Linked DNA regions of Homo sapiens. The protein of the gene in region 2 interacts with the protein of the main gene of each other region in a pairwise test. Each region holds a gene or a part of one and is shown on either strand. Other genes may lie near its edges. The genes, in order: PHF7 and RNF14.

Region 1 (3,821 bases), on a different chromosome or scaffold from region 2:
CTCTAGGAGGGGCAGCCAGCCACCCAGGCTGGTGCCCAGTGAACCTCCACACATGGGGAAGAGGAGAGGCAGAGTGAAGAACTGCCACATGCCTTCTCACGGCTGCTCACCTACTGAGCAAAGTTCCCAGGACTGTCTCCATAGCCTCTCGTTCCTGAAAGCCCCACTTAGTGCTGAGCAGCTGTCTAAGAACCCCAGCTGTTTGTAATTTAAGGAGGGGTCAGGAAGCAAGAAGAACCCCCTGTGAAATCTCCAAGTCAAGACACTGTTTCTTATTACTGAATGGAGGGACAGATTCACTGGTGAATCAAAACAGGCCTGCTTGTGAGAACTGGACTCTGATTTCATTAGTGGCTGAATAATAAGTTGCAAAAAGGAAGCCAGACTTTTCCCTTCCCTCACTCACTTGTACTCTCCAAAAAATTGTGAAAGGCAACCCCTTTCTTGGCCACAAGGCAGATGGAAGTTTCTGAGGCACTGATCCTTCTGGCAGTTGATAGCAGCTCCCTTTTTCTTGCACACAAAGCAGATCTGCAAATGAGTTCCCAGACAGTGCTCAGGACCCCAAGAAATGCAAACACACACAGTGTAGCACATCTTTCTATTAAATGGAAGTTTTGTGAAATAATAGCCATTCCCTATCTTCAGTGGTCCTGAATGCTCTGGGGCACCCGGAAGCTGAGCTTCAAGCAGCACTGAGTTCTTTCCTATTTTCTCAAGATGTTTCTCCCTCTTCTCACTTAGGACACCCATACCCCAGAGGAATATGGGACTTAAGGACTAGTTGGAAAATCCAAGAGTCCTTTGACATCTAAACTAGGAAGTAGGGAAGAGAACAGAAACAGGAATGATGGGTGAGGTATGAAAAGAGGCCTACCCCAAGGTCCTCATTTCAAGAGATTCTAACCTTCCTAGAAGCCCGGGCTGCCTCCTTTTTGATGTCTTCAGGCAGAAATCCATGGAAGCCTCTGTTGGACTGGCCCCTCTGAGGCAGCTTACTAGATAAGATCTGCGGGGGCAGTAGAACCAGGCTGTTAACAATGATGATCAGTGAAACAGTGCAGTGAGGTGAGGAGAAGGACAGGGTAAGAGAGCTAAAGAATAGAGCTTGGGCCGGGTGTGGTGGCTCATGCCTGTAATCCCGGCACTTTGGGAGGCCGAGGCGGGCGGATCACGAGGTCAGGAGATGGAGACCATCCTGGCTAACACGGTGAAACCCCATCTCTACTAAAAATACAAAAAAATTAGCCGGGTGTGGTGGCACGCACCTGTAGTCCCAGCTACTCAGGAGGCTGAGGCAGGAGAATGGCGTGAACCCGAGAGGGTGGAGCTTGCAGTGAGCCGAGATCGTGCCACTGCACTCCAGCCTGGGCCACAGAACAAGACTCTGTCTCAAAAAAGAAAAAAAAAAAGAACAGAGCTTGGTGGAATATATATGCATTGACAGGGTAATTTATTTAATGAAGGCTTACATGGCACCAACCATGTGTTGAATACTCTAAGTGGTTTCAAATATTAACTCATTGAGTCCTCCCAACAGCCCTAGGAGGTAGGTACTATTATTGTCCTCATTTTATAGGAGAGATGATGCGACCTGCTCAAGGCCACAGAACTCTGGAACCTGGACTCTTACTTTTGCTCTAGGCTGCCTCTCACTTACTGAGGGCTGCTATTGTGTGCTGGGACTTTGGGGGAAACATTTCCTTTGTATTTACTCATTTTATGCTTACAATCCTTGGCCAGGCACGGTGGCTCACACCTGTAATCCTAGCACTTTGGGAAGCCGAGGAGGGCTGACCATCTGAGGTCAGGAGTTCGAGACCAGCCTGGCCAACATGGTGAAACCCTGTCTCTACTAAAAATACAAAAACTAGGGCATGGTGGTGCGCGCCTGTAATCCCAGCTACTCGGGAGGCTGAGGCAGGAGAATCGCTTGAACCCGGGAGGCGGAGGTTGAAGTGAGCCAAGATCAGGCCACTGCACTCTAGCCTGGGCGACAGAGCAAGACTCCGTCTCAAAAAAAAAAAAAAAAATTCCTGTAATGGCAGATGCTATTATGATGCTCATCTTACAGAGGAGGCCGCTGAGGTGCAGTGTGGCAAGTGACACTGCCTCCCAGGGTTATAGGACAAGGAGGAGCAGAGCTGGCTATTCACACCCAGGCCCATGGAATCCCCATTCTTACCCTTCCTGCTGCATCACCTCTTAGTACAGAGAAAATACTCTTCTCAGAGTAATACAGGAAGAAAAACAGGGTTTTAATATCTCTTGATTGTTGTTGTTCTGTATTATGGGGGAAGGAATTGAACTTTTGAAACACATATTTTAAAACTAATTATCTCAGGGCTTTGGGATGAGTGATTTGTTTTCTTCATATTTTTAAGTATCATTCATGTTTTCTGCAATAAGCATGTATTGATTTAATAAATTAGCTACTAAAAAGAAAAAACTATATCTATATGTTCTATACAGAAAGATTTCCAAAATATATATGATGGAAAAAAGCCAAGATACAAAGCACTCTGTATAATGTTTAATTTTTATGTAAAAAATGTATATGCTTGTAAATACATCAAAATTATAACTAAGCCCTGACACCTGATAGGACTTACAAGAAAGGAAAATCACAGACCAATCTTTCTCATGAGCACAGATATAAAAATCAAAACAGATGCAAACTGAATCCAGCACCATATAAAAAGGACAATACATCATGACCAAGTAGAGTTTATACCAAGAATGCAAGACTAGTTTAACATTAGAGCATTTAGTTGATGTAACAAACTACATTAACAAAATTAAAGAGAAAAATCAAGATAATCTCAATAAATACAGGAAAAGTGAGAAAATTCAACACCCATTCATGATACTCTGGGCAAACTATATATGAATAAAAGGGATCTTCAACCTGATAAAAACATCTATGAAAAAAACCTAGAGCTAACATACTTTAATAGTGAAAAACTAGATGCTGTCCCCTGATGTTGGGAACAAGACAAGGATAACAACTCACACCACTTCTATTCAATGTTAGGTTAAAGGTCCTAGCCAATACAACAAGGCAAGAAGAAATAAAAGGCAAAGATTGAGAGAAAGAAGTAGAACTGTCTTTATTCACACATGACATGGTTATGTGCATAGGGAATCCTGTAACAAGGCATTTACAACAAAATAAAAAAACAACTAATCAAACTCAATTTAACAAGATTACAGGATACAAATCAATATACAAAAATAAAATGCATTTCTATATACCAGCAATAAACTTAAAAATGAAATAAAAATACTATTTACAATAGCATAACCACAGAATATTTAGGAATACATTTAACAAAAGATGTACAAGACTTTGTCACCAAAACAACAAAACATTGCTGAGATATATTTTAAAAGACCCAAATAAGTGGAAAAATATACCATGTCCATGGATTGGAAGGTTCAATATTTTTTGTCAATTCTTCCCAAATTGACCTATAAATTCAATGCAATCCCAATCACAATCCCAGTAGACTTTTTTTTTAAAGAAAAATTGACAAGCTTAATATAAACTTTATAAAGAAAGGACCTGATAGTCAAAACAATCTTGGAAAAGATTGTAGAACTTAACAATACTGAATTTCAATATACTATAAAGCCACAATAATCAAGACAGTGGGGACTTGTGTAAGAATAGATACATAGATCAATGACATAAATAGATTATCCAGATCCACAGATATATGGTCAATTGATTTTGACAAAGGCACCAAGGCAATTCTATGGGTAGGTAAAGATTTCTTGCAACACACAAAAAGCACTGACCATAAAAGAAAAAAATGGAT
Region 2 (3,821 bases):
TATTTTTTGTAGAAATTGGGTTTCGCCATGTTGCACAGGCTGAGCTTTTGTCTTAATACACATTAGTCTATTGATCTTCATTATGACTTCTAGAAAAGCAGCTGCTGATTCATTATCTCTCCCAGAATGCTTTATATTATTTATATTTAGCTTCAAGCCATATTTATGTCTCAATCAAGAGTTGAGGTTGTTACTAGAAAAGTATATATAACCCAGAGGAAATGAGGTGCTTAACATAAGGCCTCAAGCCTTACTGAGATATCTACAGGAACTATACACATTTCTACTTGTATGCATTTATGTCTACGTGATACCAGTTGACTGTTATTTGTTATTAATACAGATTTTTACAAAGAAAATCAGTTATTGTATTCACTCAGAAAATTTGCTTATTATAACTACATTAGCTCAATTTTTAGTCCTAATTACAATGGAATCTTTCATTTAAGGAATGGATAAGAAACTAAGAGAAAAGTAGTATCAATGTCTAAGGAAAATGAGGAAGACCTCTTAGTCTCCATTATAATACAGATTAAACAGGAAAATAGCAAGACAAGAAAAGAAATAATATACTTGATTAAAAATTACTCCTACTACAATTCATGATTGTTTTAATTACTGCCATTCCTTTTTAAAACACCAAACATTTTCAATTTCTTAACATCAGGATTCACCAAGGCAAGGGAAAAAAATTACAAAACCAAAGCCATTTGTTTTTCATGCACTGAATTCAAGATCTTTAAGATAGTCTTCAATTAAAGGTGATTTTTAAGTTTCTAAAAATGGATAGGAAAAATTAAGTTTCAAGTCTAACCTGAGTTGGTGACAGCCATTTGCCACTAAGTGTGAATGAAGGTGGGGAAGAGGATGGATAATCTGGTGGCAGTTCAAAGTTCAGCACAAGTGGAGGCAGAAAGCAAATGGTGTATTCAAAGCCACTATTCTGGAGACACTCATTTGAATTGCCTGAACCAAAAACAAAGATTAGAAAGGATCAGTTGGTCAACACTTGAGTGTCCACTACTGTTGAGCAGCGCTCAAGAAAGACTTAATGCTTTAGTTGAGGGAATAAAAACCCTCCCCCAAAGCACTTTCTATTTCTTAATTTTAACTTCGTAGCCACCACCTTAAAAAAAAATCTTGTAAGCCCTTGAAAAATCTACAGCACCATGAAATGTATAATGAAAATACTACAACTTATTCTTGTATACACTTCTGAGTACAATTCCTAACACTAATGACCAAGGAACACACAATGTTTGTTTTGTTGTGGTTTGGTTTACAGTGGATGATTGAAGACACAATCTAGAGAAAGGATGTTCATTTCCATTGAACAGCATGACCTACTTAGACCAGCATGTCCCACTTAGACCAGCATGTCCCAACTACCCATGAATCAGTTGGGAAAATTTGTGCCAACACAATGATCTCAGGTTTGAGGATATAATATAGCACACAACACTCTCACAATCAAAGTTTCATTTAAATTACCACACTTACTTTCCTTACTCAATCCCTTTATAGTAGAAACATTTTGAGAAAGTGTGCATCAAAGTCTTCTGTAAATGTCTGTATCAAAAGCAGCAGTTTTGTTTTTTCTGAAGCAAAAGGTCACAGAGTAATAGCATGTGTCATATGTTTATAGTAGTTGAAATGATTCTGGAAACCAAATAGTATTAACCACCACCACTGTACTTGAAAATTTCTAAGCGTTTTCACATACATTCATTTTCTCTTTGATTACTGCTATGTAACAGCCAATGACTCATGGCTGATAAACTGCTAGTTAGCAGACCAGGATGTATGAAATATGCAGGATAATATCCCTCTTCAGTGATCAAAAAGGTAGAATCAAATTGAAAACTGCTTGCCCCTCATTGCAATTTTCATTTAAAACAGAAACATGCATTACCTCTGTAATACTACCACCTATCACTAATGCCTAAAACACAAAATGACAAATAGTTTAAGGTACACTAAGAAATAAAGAATAATAGAAAAATCTGTTTAAGAAATTATTAACTAACCGCTCACAAATATCTTGAAATTCTGTGGCAAATCCAAATAGATCCTGGTTTCTCCACCTTGGACAGACTCTGCTTTTCTAAATTCATCTCCATCGTAAATACTTGCCAGGGCCAGCAATTCATCCTCCTGAGCTTCTCGATCTTCTGACGACATAAGGACCTGAAAACATTAAAATCAGTTAAGAACAGAAAATGCACAGAGGCTGGCCGGGTGTGGTGGCTCACACCTGTAATCCCAACACTTTGGGAGGCCGAGGCGGGCGGATCACCTGAGGTCAGGAGTTCAAGACTAGCCTGGCCAACATGGTGAAACCCCATCTCTGCTAAAAATACAAAAATTAGCCAGGCGTGGTGGCAGGTGCCTGTAATCCCAGCTACTTGGGAGGCTGAGACAGGAGAATCGCTTGAACCGGGAGGTGGAGACTGCAGTGAGCCAACATCACGCCACTGCACTCCAGCCTGGGCGACAAGAGTGAAACTCCGTTTCAAAAAAAAAAAAAAGAAAAGAAAATGCACAGAGGTGGAAAAAGCTTAATGGCACAAAAAACAACTGCAAAGAATTAATCGATATTATCACTTTTCTCCTAAACCAAAAATGACAGCCATATCTGGCATTCCATTAGTTTTGCAATATTAACAGTCTTTTTCAAAAGGGATGGTTGTGGTACTTCTAATTCCTGATCTTATCAGTTAGATATTTTATGACTGAATTAGAGGAAAAAAAGCACAATTTGAAAATTTTCTTTGAAAAGGACAAATCACAAATTTACTTTGACTTGTCCACTGAACCTAGCAATGTGCCTGGTTCGCAAAAGTGGTCAAAGTATATTACACTCCTTTCTTAAGTTAATTTGCCAGGCGCGGTGGCTCGTGCCTGTAATCCCAACACTTTGGTAGGCCGAGGCGGGCAAATCACCTGCAGTCAGGAGTTCGAGACCAGCCTGGCCAACGTGGTGAAACCCCATCTCTACTAAAAATACAAAAATTAGCTGGGTGTGGTGGCTCACCCCTGTAATCCCAGCTACTCGGGAGGTTGAGGCAGGAGAACTGCTTGAACGTGGGAGGCAGAGGTTGCAGTGAGCTGAGATTGCACCATTGCACTCCAGCCTGGGCGACAGAGTCAGACTCTGTCTCAAAAAAACAAAAAAGTAAATTTTTTAAATCCACAGGAATCTTTAGGGCAAGTTTTCTTAGCTTCAGCTCTATTGACATTTTGAAGTAAATAATTGTTGTTGGAGAGCTGTGTTGTGCATTATAGAATCTTAACAGCATCCCCTGGCTTTTACCCACTAGATACCCAATAGTGGCCCGCTTCCACCCACAAGAGCTGTGACAACTGAAAATATCTAGCCAGGTGTGGTGGTGCTTGCCTGTGGTCCCAGCTACTTGGGGAGCTGACATGGGAGGATCACTTGAGCCTGGGAGGTCGAGGCTGCAGTGAGCCATGATAGCACCACTGCACTCCAGCCTGAGTGACAAAGTGGGACCCTGTCTCAAAAAAAAAAATATCTCCAAATAGCGCCAGGTCCTGGGGCAGGATGGGGGTTGGAGGCAAAATTGCTCCCAGGTGAGAAAACAGTGCTTGAGAATGTTACAGGCATAGATATTATGGAAGAAAATTAGATAACTGAGCAAGCAGCAAAATAATATTAAATTTTTGAAATAATAGATTTTGTCAAATCCAAGCAGTCACCAATTTAAAGATTCACCATTATGACTCAAGAATATTTAAAAGATAATAATTTTAAGAAAGATTTACCATTATTTTAGGTAATACTAAGAATTTAGCTACAA

The links.
Region 1: the proteins of RNF14 (region 2) and PHF7 interact in a two-hybrid assay, tested with the Homo sapiens proteins (one large-scale study listed by BioGRID and IntAct).

Annotation. Positions count from the first base shown.
Region 1 is NC_000003.12:52,417,021-52,420,841, reverse strand, and holds part of PHF7 (E3 ubiquitin-protein ligase PHF7), read right to left. Parts: intron 1,010-3,821; coding exon 908-1,009; intron 532-907; coding exon 407-531; intron 1-406.
Region 2 is NC_000005.10:141,971,949-141,975,769, reverse strand, and holds part of RNF14 (E3 ubiquitin-protein ligase RNF14), read right to left. Parts: intron 2,188-3,821; 5' UTR 2,182-2,187; coding exon 2,028-2,181; intron 967-2,027; coding exon 815-966; intron 1-814. UniProt on the Homo sapiens protein: E3 ubiquitin-protein ligase that plays a key role in the RNF14-RNF25 translation quality control pathway, a pathway that takes place when a ribosome has stalled during translation, and which promotes ubiquitination and degradation of translation factors on stalled ribosomes.